2 separate regions of the Homo sapiens genome follow, and region 2 is linked to region 1. A link means that fine-mapping ties the variant in region 1 to the expression of a gene that starts in the linked region. Tissue or cell type: whole blood. Region 1 holds a variant in brackets; the other region holds the start of a gene. All regions are shown on one strand. Distances are from middle to middle.

Region 1 (7,785 bases):
GAGTTTGAGTGTATAGTGAGCTATGATGTCACTCCGGCACTTCAGCCTGGGCAACGGAGTGAGACCATGTCTCTCAACAGCAACACCACCACCACTTAGTGACTTAAAACAACCATAATTCTGCAGGTCTATATCTGGGGGGGAAAAGTTAATTAAAAGTTTATCGGGAGGATGTCTCACTCTGTCACCCAGGCTCGAGTGCGGTGGCACAATCAAAGTTCACAGCAGCCTTGAACTCCTGGGCTCAAGTGATCCTTCTGCCTCATCCTCCTGAGCAGATGGGAGTACAGGTGTGTGCCATCATGCCTGGCTAATTCAATTTTTTTTTTTTTTCCTCCTAGAGACAGGCTCTCCTGTGTTGCCCAGGCTCATCTCAAACTCCTGGCTTCAAGCTGTCCTCCTACCTTGGCCTCCCAAAGTGCTGGGATTACAGGCATGAGCCACTGTGCCTGGCCTGATCCCAGTTATTTAATTAATAAATCGAGTGAATTATATTACCTAAGATGTCTTCTAGCCCTGAGTTTGTGTAATTCTGTTTTAGTCTTTTTTGTTGATTAGTCTTCCTGAATACCCCTGTCTGTGCTGGAATGCTGCAGTGCTCTCCAACCTGCTTGAAGTGCATGAGTGTTTTATCTCCAAATAGCCTACCTTGCTGTGCTTTTATCATTCTTTCCGTGCTTTTATAGTTCTGCTGTGATCTTTGCAGGCAAGTGTTATTTCCACAGCTTTCAGGTGTCTGTGGGTGGCTTCTGATCTACTGGCCTATTTTGCCTAAATTTGTCAGCAAGACTTAGATATTCTTTGCATCTGAAGGTAAAATACAGAATTTAGAACAGCTTATTTCGTCAAAGCTACTTGGAAATCCTTGTGTATTTTTTCTGATTTATAAAAGTAATATGTAAATAATACATATCATTTTAGATAGTGTTAAAAAAGTAGGAAAGTATAAAGCAAACAAAAATTACCTTTTGTTCAACCATCCAGAGATAAACTCACTAAGTACTGGGTTTTTCCACCATTTAAAAATTTTTGTATTTTCCCTTTTTCTCTTCTTCTTATTAGCATTTTGAAATGCCCACTTTTTTTCCATCGTGAGAAAATAAATACATAAGATTCCTTCCCATAATCCCAGCCTTCTGGTATCTTGTGTTAGCGTCCCTTTCAGAGCTATTGAAAGAATACTGCTTTCTTCTTTCAGGTTGGCTTCTACCCTCACTAGGGTCCCAAAACTTTCAAGATCACTAATGACTGCACTACTGGCAAATTTGGTGGATGTTTTCAGTAGTTACCTCACTTTTCTCCCAGCAGCAATTGATTCCCTCTCAAAACACTCTTCCACAGGCTTCTACCATAACTTTCTCTTCCCTGGTTTTCCTTAAGTTTTTTTGGCCACTCTTCAGGATACCCTAGGCTACACCTTCCTGCAAAAAATCATTCGCTTTCCTGGTTTCAGTAACTCCCAAATCTGTATCTCTGGCTCAGATTTTCTCTGAGTTCCAGGTTTATCTCAGCTAGATAGTGGACTTAACTGTTCCACCAATAAACTCAACATGTCCAGATACAAATTTATCTTATCTCTTTTTAAAACTTCCACTGTCATTCTTGGCTGAAAGCCAGTGTCATCTTTAATTCCTCCATCTGCCTCACCTCTTCCTGTGAGTCCTTACCAGGGCTGTGTGTTCTCTGCCGAATCTCTCTTGAACCATTGTTCTCCTTTGCCAGTGCCACTGCCATAGTCCATGGCAACACTTTTATTGGGGCCACCTGTAAAGGACTTCTATCTGGTCTCCTGGCGGTTTTGTTTTCTTTTTTGTTTAAATCAATTTTCCACCCTGGATTTAGAGTGATCTTTCAAAAATAAGTTTAATCATTGTTACCTTTTTTTTTTTCTTTTGAGACGGAGTTTCACTCTGTCGCCCAGGCTGGAGTGCAGTGGTACAATCTCAGCTCACTGTAGCTGTTAGGAATCTGCATTTTATTTATTTATTTAGTTAGTTTTGAGGCAGAGTTTCTCTCTGTCGCCCAGGCTGGAGTGTAGTGGCATGATCTTGGCTCACTACAACTTCCGTCTCTCCGGTTCAAGCGATTCTCCTGCCTCAGCCTCACGAGTAGCTGGGATTACAGGTACCAGGCCATTATGCCTGGCTAATTTTTGTATTTTTAGTAGAGATGGGGTTTCACCATGTTAGCCCAGGCTGGCCTCAAACTCCTGACCTCAGGTGATCCGCCCGCCTGGGCCTCCCAAAGTGCTGGAATTACAGGCATGAGCCACCGCACCTGGCTCATTGTCACCTTTTTAATAGATCCTTTTGCCTATACAATGCGTTATAAATGTCTTGCCTTGTGTTTCAAGTCCTTAATGAAACTCATCCTTGAGTAGCTGTTAGTCTTCACCACTCTCCCACAGCTCCTTCCCCTTCATTCCTGTGGTTTTTTTTTTTTTTTTTGCAGGTATATGGGAGAATGATATTTCTGTCTTCCAAGCCTTGATTTTTCCTTTGCTGAGCTTAGTGCATTCCTCCTGGCTCCACTTACTGTTTGCTAAACCAGGTCTTATCATCCTTCAGGTTTTCTTCAGCTTAGTTGGTCGTTTCCTTTTCCCTTTCCTGGCCTAGATTCTCCTGGTGCAGTCACTCTGTTTGAGTAGCATCATACATAACAGCTTTTCTCCTTCGTGGCAGTTCTCACACTTTTTGGTCTCAGGACTCTTTTGCACTCTTTTAACATTATTTAGGATTCTAGGGAGCTATTGTTTATGTGGGTGATATCTACAATATTTATTGGATTAGAAATGAAGGCTGAGAAATGAAGAAAAAATTATTTTAAAATTACAATGATAAATTATAATTTTACATGTTAAGATGACATGTTAGCATAGTTATTTTTCACGAAAATCTTATTTTTCAAACCAGAAAAAAGCGAAAAGAATTGCATTGCTTTTCATTTTTTAAATGTCTGAATTAATAAAATATACCTGAATTCTCATGTCTGCCTCTACATTCAATCTGTTGTGATGTTAGACTTCATGTAGCCCCGGGAAAACTCCGCTATACCCTTGTGGGAGGATGAAAATGAACAAAACAAATGTTTTTGTATTATTGAGAAGATAGTTTTGACCTTGTACCTTCCCTGAAAAGGTCTCAGGAACCCCTCGGTGTCTCTGGACTGCACTTTGAGAACCACTGCTTTATGGCAGTGACTTCTTATTTGCCTCTTTCCCTCTGACTATGTACTGTGAGAGTAGGACCCAGATCCACCTTGCTCACTTCTGTGTCCCTGGTACCTGGGACATTGTTCTTTATGTAAAAGGTTCGCAGATATCTGTTGATTCACTTATTCAATCAGTTACTCGGTTGGTTTGGTTCTCAAGAAATTGACACCAGGCACTAGAGACTCAGTCCATGTAAGTATAAGAAAATTGTAGCCTGTGGGCATTTCTTCTACCAATTTCTCTGGGGCACTTGGGTCTAATATTTTTCATGTAACATCACAAGAGTATAATTCTCATTTTACCTTAGTTAATATTGAGGTAAAAGGAAGCATATAAATTAGTTTTTGTCATGGATTTTTGAATTAAGATGTACATATGTGGAATGATATGAATAAATGTCAACTATGTAATATTGCCTCACATTTGAAAAGTCTACTTGACTTGAAGGCATGAAAATGCATTGT[C/T]ATGTTTATTTGTTGTCAAGGAAGTAGTAGTATAGTAAAATACACAGGAAATATTTATTCTTTGGGAATGATAGAGGAAAGAAAAAAGTAAAATAAAAATTAAGTACAAAAAGTTTTTTTAATTAAAAAATTTATTCTGGAAAGGTCATTAGGTAACAAATAGGAGACTTTAGTCTATGTTAAATGCTTTCTGGAAAAACTGACCACTTATTCAGTGTGGAATTGAAACGTACGTTTAAAATGGTGGTGAAGCAGGAAAAAAAGAAATAGCATGAGGCATAGCTTATTAATTATGTGTTGTCTGGTTTCCATGAAAGCCTTAATTAGAACGAAAAGGAAAAGATGTGCTTATTATTACAACTACCAAGTTCAGCATTTATGACCTGTCATTATAAAACAGATCACCATGCTGTCTGACCCACCCTTGAAAATCGTGAAGTGCAAACACACTAATTATGTTCCTACTGAAATTCAGGTTCTTAACTTCAGGCTTCAGCTTAACCTGCTTTAGAGCACGCATACTTTTTGCCACGATAATACTCATAGGACTAGAAACAACTAGGAGATGTTATTTTATTTTTTAAATCAGACTGAACTTCAGGCAGATTTCCTTATATTGTAAATTAGTGGCTTATTTATATGACCTTTATAGGGCATCTAATGATAGTGGGTTTTTTTTTCTTTTTTTTTTTGAGATGGAGTTTCGCTCTTGTTGCCCAGGCTGGAGTGCAATGGTGCGATCTCAGCTCACCGCAACCTCCACCTCCCAGGTTCAAGCAGTTCTCCTGCCTCAGCCTCCAGAGTAGTTGGGATTACAGGCATATGCCACCATGCCTGGCTAATTTTGTATTTTTAGTAGAGATGGGATTTCTCCATGTCGGTCAGGCTGGTCTCAAGCTCCTGACCTGAGGTGATCCGCCCACCTTGGCCTCCCAAAGTGCTGAGATTATAGGCGTGAGCCACTGCGCGCATCTGTGTTACTTATTTGATGTATTTTGGTGACATTTTGAATGGGGGCAAATGAGAAAAGGGCTCTGGCACTAAGCATTTATTAGATAACTCTTTTACAGGACAGTGTTTGGTAGTGAAGTTACTCTGCCCATGGCAGTGTGGCCATGCTGCAGCTTGACACCACTCCCTGTAATAGAGAATGGATTGTGCTGTGATTTTAACATTTCCCTTAAGAAAAGGGTGTTAGGTTATGATAAAACTTTTATACTGTCTTTGTGAGGTTTTGGTGAGTTAGTAAGTAGGCTTCCCTATCATTAAGAAAAAGTCTTTAAATCTTTGTTTCTACTTGCAGAACATTTATTCCTTCTTTGTAAGAAGAACCAGGATAATTTGTTCATTTGTATAGTTGATCCTTGAACAGCTTGGAAGTTCGGGGCACTGACCCCCATGCAGTTGAAAGTCCACATATAACTTTTTGACTCCCCAAAAACTTGTCTGAGAGTTTCCTGTTGTCTGAAAGCCTTACTGATAGCATAAATAGGTGATTAACACATGTTTTGTATGTTATATGTATTATATATTGTATTCATGCAATAAAGTAGGCTAGAGAAAAAATAAGGAAGAGAAAATACATTTATGGTATGGTATTGTATTTATTGATATTGTAAGTTTACATCATCTGTTTACAAGATGATGTATGTCAGTCCGAAATGGTAGGTAACCACAGCTGCAGACCTCAATCTACAGTACATTTCAAGTAGTTCAACTTTTTCCTGTAATGTCATTACTTTTCTCTGCTTCTTGGGAGCACTTCCAGCATTACTAGTGGCACTTCGTATGGGTCCCATGGTGTTATTCAAGTTTTATGGTTATTACAGTAAACATGACTTGCTTACTGTGTATGTTATTGGTATCACAGGGTGTTATAAGTGGATAATTGTAGTGTCTGAGCCCAGTGTAATAGCAATAGGAGGTGACTTCAGAATTATTACGGCAGTACAGTATATACCGCAGTTAATTTTATGTAGTTGTGATTTGATATATCTTTATGTTTGCTTACAATTCTCTCAAATTTGAATGATGCTATTTATGTTCTGTGTGTGTGTTAGTTTTGATAAATTTTATCTTTTTAAAATTTGTATATGTTTTATGGTAGTAAATGACAAAATAGACTAGTATTCACTTTTTTTTTTTTTTTTTTTTTTTTTCCTGAGACGGAGTTTCACTCCGTCGCCCAGGCTGGAGTAGTGCAGGGGCGCGATCTCGACTCACTACATCCTCCGCCTCCTGGGTTTAAGCAGTTCTCCTGCCTCAGCCTCCCAAGTAGCTGAGATTACAGGCGCCCACCACCACGCCTGGCTAATTTTTTGTGTACTTTTAGTAGAGATGAGGTTTCACCATTTTGGCCAGGCCGATCTTGACGCCTGACCTCGTGATCCACCCACCCGTCTTGGCCTCCCAAAGTGCTGGAATTTACAGTTGTGAGCTACCGTGCCCGGCCAGTATTTACATGTTTTACACATTTATGCCGTATCTTTCTCTTAAATTTTTTTGATATTTCTAGGCTATGGTAGTTCATCTGTGAGGTTTTTTTTAATTGTTCCAAATGTTCAAAAATGTTTTCAATATATTTATTGAAAGAAAATCCAGGTATAAGTGGACTCATGCAGTTCAAATCCATGTTGTTCAAGGGCCAACTGTGTTTTATACATGTGATTTAACTATTACTTGTTTATTAACAAAGTGACACTGTAAACTCATGTCTGTGGCAGTATTTAAATTTTATGTGCCCCAAACCTTGGCATATTATGGGATGAAATATTTTACTCCTTTTCTTCCTTTTAGCACAACATTCTGAAATTTTTTGGTTATTGTAATGATGTTGATCGGGAGTTGAGAAAATGCCTGAAGAATGAGGTAAGAAAAGTGTCAAAGGATGGATATGGTTGAACAATAGAACAGAACATTTTTGAATATTGTGTATTACTGCCATTATTGAATTTTTCCCACATTTTAGTGTAACAGAAAATTGACTTTACATGTATGAACTTCCTCTGTTTAGGGGAAGAAATGAAAGCTTTTCTGGGGACAGTTTTAGAACATGGCTTTTTGGCCATGAACACAAATGAGGAAAACAACTTCCTTATGATGATTACTGTAGGTCATCTGGATGAATTTAATGGTTTAGGAAGTTGTATCTCTGGCCGGCAGAAAGACTTATATCAGTCACCTATTAGCTGATTGGTAGGTAACTAAAACTCTCAGGGCCTCAATTTCTATATATAAATTGAGGAGGCTAGAATTAGGCTGTTTTCAGCTTTAACATTTTGAATTTCTTTGTAGTTATGGTTTGTGTAAGCCACAGGGATCTAATTTGACTTGTTTTGGAACACTGTCATCTCCTGAACTTGATTTTAGGGCACAACTTGGACTTGGGCAAATAGCCACAGTACACAGTTCATTGTCTTTTTCCAGGCACTGCCAAATAAGCAGAGTGCATTTTAAACCTTTGAAAAGAAATTTGATTCAATTTCTGTTTCATACATCAGATTTTTTGTGTCCAGAACTTTTAAAAATATATGATGGCTAAAATTTTGCCTTTCAGATATCATTTTTGTTATTTTTGAACTTTTTTTTTTTTTTGCCTCATATTGAAAGATTTAAATATAATATTTGAAGTTGTCCAACATCTTTCTTTTGATTTTGTTTTCTGCTTAGGCTGTTTTTCCCTTCCTGGATTCCCTTTAAATTGTGACATTCACCTTTACTGTTTGAAGAACTTTTTGGAGTACTCAGTGAAGAGTAATAGTTTGTTTCTTTTTTTCTTTTTTCTTTTGAGACAGGTTCTTGCTCTGTCACCTAAGCTGGAGTGCAGTAGGGTGATCGTAACTCACGGAAGCCTCAAACTCAAGTGATCCTCCCACCTCAGCCTCCTGAGTAGCTAGGACGACAGGTGCGTACCACCATGCCTGGTTAAGGTTTTACACATTTTTTTGTAGAGATGAGAGTCTCACTGTTTTGGCCAGGCTGGTCTCAAACTGCTAACCTCAAGCAGTCCTCCCACCTTGGCCTCCCAAAGTGCTGGGACTACAGACATGAGTCACCATTCCCAGCCTTATTAGTGTTTTTAAATTATTTACTAAAAATGTTTGTCCTTTA
Region 2 (6,392 bases), 24 kb before region 1:
CTGAGGCAAGAGCCTGCTTGGGGCCTTCGAGGAACAGGGAAGGGTGGCCTCCAGTCAGGGGACAGCAGAGACAGGAAGGAGGCATAGAGAAGGAGGTGAGGTCAGTCATCATGGAGGGCCTTGAAAGGCACTGCGGGGATCACTGCTGTTTTCACTCTGCAAGGTGCTGAGCACAGGCAGGACATGCTCTTGTTTAGCTTTTCTACCAGGATCAATCTCGCTACTGTACTGAGAACGCAGTGTAAGGAGGCGAGGGCAGAGGTTGGAGGTTAGTGAGGCAGGGGAAGAGGTCAGGTTCTGGATACACTTTTAAGAGGGAACTCACGGGGTTTCCAGATGGATTACATGTGGGGTGTTAGATCAAGAAAAGAACCAAAGATGAAACCAAGGTTTTTACCAGGGAACTAAAAGACAAAGTTACTATTAGCTGAGACGGCCAAGACTGCGAGAGAGGCAGGAGAAAGCTCAAGAATTCTGTAATTCTGTTCTGAATCTGTTAATATTAAGATAAAGATGAGAGTCCAAATGGAGATACCGAATAAACAGCTGGATCTGTGACTCCACAGGACATGCTAAGAGCTAGTGGTGCAGTGGATTGCTGTCTCTTAGTCCTTTAATGCACCGCCTGTGAACAAAGAGCTCTTTCCTCCCTCACTTCTCCTGCCCATGCCTGAGGGTGAGATTCCTTAATTGTCTATAAGGTCCTGAGCCCCAAATCTGGTGTGCCTCCCTTATCAATAGGCAAGGGATATAATCTCCAGAAGAATGACCTAGCGGCTGCAGGAATAAGGAAGGAAGATTCTGAGCTCTTTTATCATTTTCCTTTGGCAGAAGTTGTGAGCCAATGGTGACAGCTGATCTCACGTCTGCTACTTTATTTGGGGACACCAGTGAGCATCTCTCTCTCTCTCTTCAAATACAGAACAAAAAAGCAAGCAAACATGATATTTATTTATTTTTTTCATTTGAGATAGAGTCTCACTCTGTCGCCCGGGCTGGAGTGCAGTGGTGCAACCTCGGCTCACTGCAACCTCCCCTGCCTGGTTCAAGTGATTCTCCTGCCTCAGCCTCCCAGGTAGCTAGGACTGCAGGCGTGCACCACCACGCCTGGCTAATTTTTGTATCTTTAGTAGAGACATGGTTTCACCATGTTGCCCAGGCTGGTCTCGAACTCCTGACCTCAAGTGATCTGCCCTCCTCGGCCTCCTGAAGTGCTGGGATTACAGGTGTGAGCCACCGCGCGTGGTCTGCAAACATGATTTTTATACAATGCAGGGTACCACCCGCATACTTTAATGTCCCTTAACAGTGTGTCTTCTAGGAAGGCACACACAGACCTTGGCATCTGTGTTTAAGACAAGCCTGTCAGTCATCTGTTTCCTTCACAACTGTGGGAATTCCAGGGACAAAGAAGTATCTTCCTACAAGAGTCCTGGCTGTGACTTATTTGTTGAACACTGAAAAATTATCCTTGTCCACTTCTGAAAAGAAATAGTTGACTGTATTTTAACAATATACTGAAAATGATAGTAAGACAAAGATAAAGAGGAAGGATTAGGAGTCATTTAGAAATAGAAAAATAACTGAATTAAGGTCGTAGGAACAGAATCAGGATCATGAAACAGGAGTCGGATTTGTTTCTTTGTGTAGTTACTGGACCATCTAAAGCCTTCACCATGGTCTACAAGGCCCCGTGTTGCGTGGCCCCTGCTTCCCTCTCCTTGGTTTTCTGAGCTCCAACTACACTAGTCTCTTAAATAATCTCTAGAGAAGGACCATTGTGCCTGCAGTTACAACTGCCTAGAAGGTTCTTCCTGCACATGTTCTCTCCAGTGACTTCTTGCAATTCTGGTGTTAGCTTAGATGGTTTCTCCTCAGACTTATCCTGACCACCCAACCAAAAGTTACTTCCCCACTCTCCACTGCTAATTGTTTTTTTCCTTTTTTTTAGACGGAATCTTGCTGGGTCACCCACATTAGAGTGTAGTAGTGGGATTTCTGCTCACTGCAGCCTCCTGCAGCCTCTGCCTCCCAGATTCAAATGATTCTCCTGCCTCAGCCTCCCGAGTATCTGGGATTACAGGTGTGCACCATGACACCCAACTAATTTTTCTACTTTTAGTAAAGATGGGGTTTCACCATGTTGGTCAGGCTGGTCTTGAACTCCCAAGCTCAAGTGATCCTCCCGCCTCGGCCTCCCAAAGTACTGGGATTACAGGCGTGAGCCTCTGCACCAGGCCATCCACTGCTAATTGTCTTTACAGAACTATCTGAAATTATCTTTTTAACTTTTCTTGTTTCTAAAATTGAGCTCCAGGGCAGGACGATGTTTTTATTCACAGCTATACTCCTAGACCAGAACTGCCTCACTATAGTCAGTAAGTCTAATCAGGCCAAGAACAGTCTAATGTGTCTTTGATAAATACTTGTGGAATGAATGCCTGAGGAGACAACCTGGGTGGTTTGGGGTTCAACAGTCAGTGAAACATCAAATCAACACCTCTCCCATTAAGAACACGGGCGAGGGGCCGGGAGCGCGCCGGGCGTGGTGTATCACTTGAGGTCAGTCGTTCAAGACCACCCAGGCCAACATGGTGAAACTCCGTCTCTACTAGAAATACAAAAATTAGCCGGGTGTCGTGACGCACACCTCTAGTCCCAGCTACTCGGGAGGCTGAGGCAAGAGAACAGCCTGAATCCGGGAGGAGGAGGTTGCAGTGAGCCGAGAACGTGCCACTGCCCTCCAACATGGGCGACAAAGCAAGACTCCGTCTCAAAAAAACAAAAAACAAACAAAAAAACCCACAGACGAGGCTACCCGTTAAAATGAAGATTCCTGGGCCCTATCAAATTAAACTGTGAGGAGGGCGCACGGAGGGCTTGAGATTTAGCATCTTTTAAAAAGTACGTCAGATGATTTATTCCGGGTAAAGTTTGCAGAACGCCAGTCTAAAGAAATTTGGTAGAGCGCCCTCAGTCTCACCAATTAAGACGGAAATCCCTTTAGTAAACGTTTACCCCGTGACCATTTTTAAACTTTCCTTTTTTTGTTGTTTCGGAGACACAGTCTCGCTTTGTCGCCCAGGGTGCAGTGCAGTGGCGCGATCTCGGGTCACTGCAACCTCCGCCTCCCGGGTTCATGCGCTTCTCCTGCCTCAGCCTCCCAAATAGCTGGGATTACAGGCACCCGATACCACGTCCGGTTAATTTTTGTATTTTTAGTAGAGACGGGGTTTCACCATGTTGGCCAGGCTGGTCTCGAACTCCTGACCTAAGGTGATCCGCCCACGTCGGTCTCCCAAAGTGTTGGGATTACAGGCGTAAACTACCGCGCCTGGCCCCATTTTAAAACTTTCTTTATACTTCCTAGCGTTTTAGTGTCTGACATACAGTAGATGCTCAAGATCTGTGGAACGCATGATCAAAAAGATCCATTTTAAGTAACGTTCCCGTAGCCACACACCTCTGCTGCGCTCCAACAGGCAATGCGAGGAGCAACGCAAGAGGGTACAGGGACAAAAAACGACGGAAGCCGAGGTGACAGAAAAGCAAAACCCCAACTCTGGGAAAGGAAGCAACCCCAGGATCGTAGAGCGGAGCCCCTGGTCACATGACCACACGGCCCTCCCCTGACGCAGTCGCGAGCCTACGAAAGGCTCCACCCGCCCCACCGCGGGCGAGGTGACGTCACAGCCGGCACAGCGCCACCGCCCCCTCACCTCGGCCCGAACCGTAGTTCCTCGCCCCGAGCCCGAGACCCAGCGCCAATCCTGCGCCTCACAACGTGCGACAATTGCGAAAAAGCCACCCCCGAGGCCTGGGATCTGGCTTCCTCAAGGCCCCACACCCTCCGGGGCCCGATCCAGTGCCGCCCGGGGCTCTCTTACCGGCCCACATCTCCTGCAGTCTCACTCCTCAAGAGCTGTTCCCGCTCGCCGCGCCTTCAAAGCCACCAATTGCAGTTCCCGCCGCCTCCAAGCTCCGCCCACCGGAGCACAAGCATCAGGCTGTGTCTTGGGCACAGGGGACTGCACGGGGGAGCGACTGAAGCGAAGGTCGCCGAGCCCCCCACGCCGCTCTTCTTAGAAGTGTGCAACCTTGCACCAGTAGTGGACTTACACATAGGCTCCGTTAGGACCTGGCTTATGTGCTCGGCTTGTGGCTTAGACGCTGCCGTGCCCCAGTGGACTCACTGTGCCTCCCCCCACGACGGACGGAAATGGGCCCCTCCAGGACAGGCGGCGCATGCGCCTTGGGGCCCGCGGGCGGCGGGGGCGAGGAGCCGGGAGCACGGTGGAGCGGTGGAGGGCGTCACTGGGTTTCGGCGTCTGGCAAGCGGTTCAGCTGTCTGCTCCCTAGCAGCCGGCCTTCGGGTCGGGCGTCTCCGCCGGCTACTGCCGCTTCAGTTCTCCCGGTGTGGCCACGAGTCGGGTGAGTCTCGGGAGTCCAGGCCGTTCCGAACGCGTTCCGTTGTTCCTCCTCAGGTCCCTGATGGCGCGTCCCGCCGAGCCCCTTCCTGCCGCCCGTCGGCCCCAGGAGGTGGGGACCAGGAAGACCCGGCTGCCGCAGGCCCACAGCCGGGCTGCTGCGCTGGGGAGGCTGCGAGCGAGGTGGCTGGGCGCTCGCTGGAACACGCTGGTGGCCGAGACAGGCCGTGGGCGTCGCTCGGGGTTGGGATCCGCCCGCCACTCACTCAACTGGCTGGTGACCTTGGGCGCGCTCCTCCCCTCCCGGAGCCGGGGCTTCCTCGCCGGTAAAATGGACCTTGAGGAATGGAGCCCTCAACACAGGGTTTGACACGATGAGCGCCCAATAAAGTGTTGTTATTGTTGTTTATCTAGCAATTGAGAATTTGCGGGTAGAAAACGGGGGCCGTTCAAGCAAGTCTCAGCTGCAGTGCCCTGTGATGTGAGAACCCACCAAGAGCCCCATCAGTACACTTTACTCTTTTTTCTCCTTTAATGCTTTTTTTTTCCAGGAAAGTAATACATTCATCTTGCTTTTCTTGCGTTTAAAGATCAGGCGTTTTACGTAGAGTCTTAAGTAAATCAGTTTTGGAAGTCTTCATTTAAAACCTCAAAGGCATGGAAGTTTTCGATGGCAAAGGAATTATGTTGTGATGCCATTCGTATCTCCTCTCCTTTATATGTATGGCTTTTGCACTTGTTTAGTTGATTTAAAATGAGTTTCTTTTTCATCCTTTTCCTACTGCGTTGAGGCCTGAACTAGTTGTCAGTTTCTGACATTCCGCGAACATCGATTGGGCATTTACCATGTGCATTGGCAAGAATGCTCCCTCACGAGCCTGTGCGTTCCTTGAGATGTGTGAACGAGTATTTTCCTCTGAAATTCACATGATTCTGGCAGAGTGCTAGGCACCTTGTAAGTCCTGGTAATGTTTATTCAGGGAAAGCTGCGAGGGCGCATTCTCTGAGAAACTCTTCGGTGGAAGTCAGAGTAGTTAAGCCCTTCTCCCTAGGCAGCACCCCCGGGTCCCTCCCAGAAGCAGCCTGGCATGGGGTCTACAGTGCCAGCGCCAGTCGCTTTCTTAGTGGTATCGGTTTAGAACTGGTCCTGTGATAAGTGGAAGTGGGCAGGGGAGGCCGTCCCCGACCGTGTCTGCGACCTCTGCTGCAGTATGGCTCATAGCTTGAAAAGTTGAAAAATAATTCTTTAATACCAGGGCCGAAATGTAGGCCTTAAAAATGTTTTATGTTATTTATTTATATATATATATATTTAAATTTTATTTTGAGACGGCGTCTTGTTTTGTCGCCCAGGCTGGAGTGCAGTGGCGCGATCTCGGCTCACTGCAACCTCCACCTCCCGAGTTCTAGTGATTCTCGTGCCTCAACCTCCTGAGTAGCTAGGGTTACAGGCCACGCCTGGCTAATTTTTGTATTTTTAGTAGAGACGGGGATTCACCATGTTGGCCAGGCTTGTCCTGACCTCAAGTGATCTGCCTGCCTCGGCCTCCCGAAGTGGTGGGATTACAGGCGTGAGCCACCGCGCCTAGCCTAAAAAGATATATTTTAGAAAGCGGAGTGTTTACAGTTTTTTTTTCTGGAGAACAGTTTCTTCAGACTCTGCACAACAGACTTTTCTGGCCTTGTTTTTTGCTTATTTTGCAGTAGCATTAGAAATTACAACTGTAGTGTAAATTTCCTGTGCAGCCGCACAATAGGAAAATCTTTCTAAAGAAAAGCCAACTGGCATTAAAATACAGGGTTCTTCCTTGTGATTATAGATTTGCTGAAGTGAGTTATTAGAATGCTTACCCGTTTTCTTTATACTAGAGTTAATACAGCGCTGGCTCTTGGTTTATTTTCTAAAATTGTGCCACCTGGTGGTTGAAATCTGTCTTAGACTACTCTTGAGGAAAATTGTACCTC

The links. PIP is the estimated chance that this variant, and not a neighbour inherited with it, causes the effect.
Region 2: it holds the start of CMC2, and the variant in region 1 is fine-mapped to the expression of CMC2 in whole blood (INTERVAL, PIP above 0.99).

The regions. Positions count from the first base shown.
Region 1 is chr16:80,980,564-80,988,348 of GRCh38, reverse strand. CMC2 (C-X9-C motif containing 2) reads left to right here. Exons shown (of 4, transcript NM_020188.5): 3 at 6,472-6,543. Among named protein-coding and RNA genes, the nearest start is that of CMC2, 22 kb to the left of the region's middle. The variant C/T (reference allele first, on the strand shown) is at 3,676.
Region 2 is chr16:81,004,773-81,011,164 of GRCh38, reverse strand. CMC2 (C-X9-C motif containing 2) reads left to right here and starts at 4,280. Exons shown (of 4, transcript NM_020188.5): 1 at 4,280-4,431. It overlaps CENPN (centromere protein N), which reads right to left and starts at 3,951. Exons shown (of 11, transcript NM_001100624.3): 1 at 3,888-3,951. RefSeq lists enhancers at 3,443-3,582, 3,893-4,002 and a silencer at 4,173-4,542.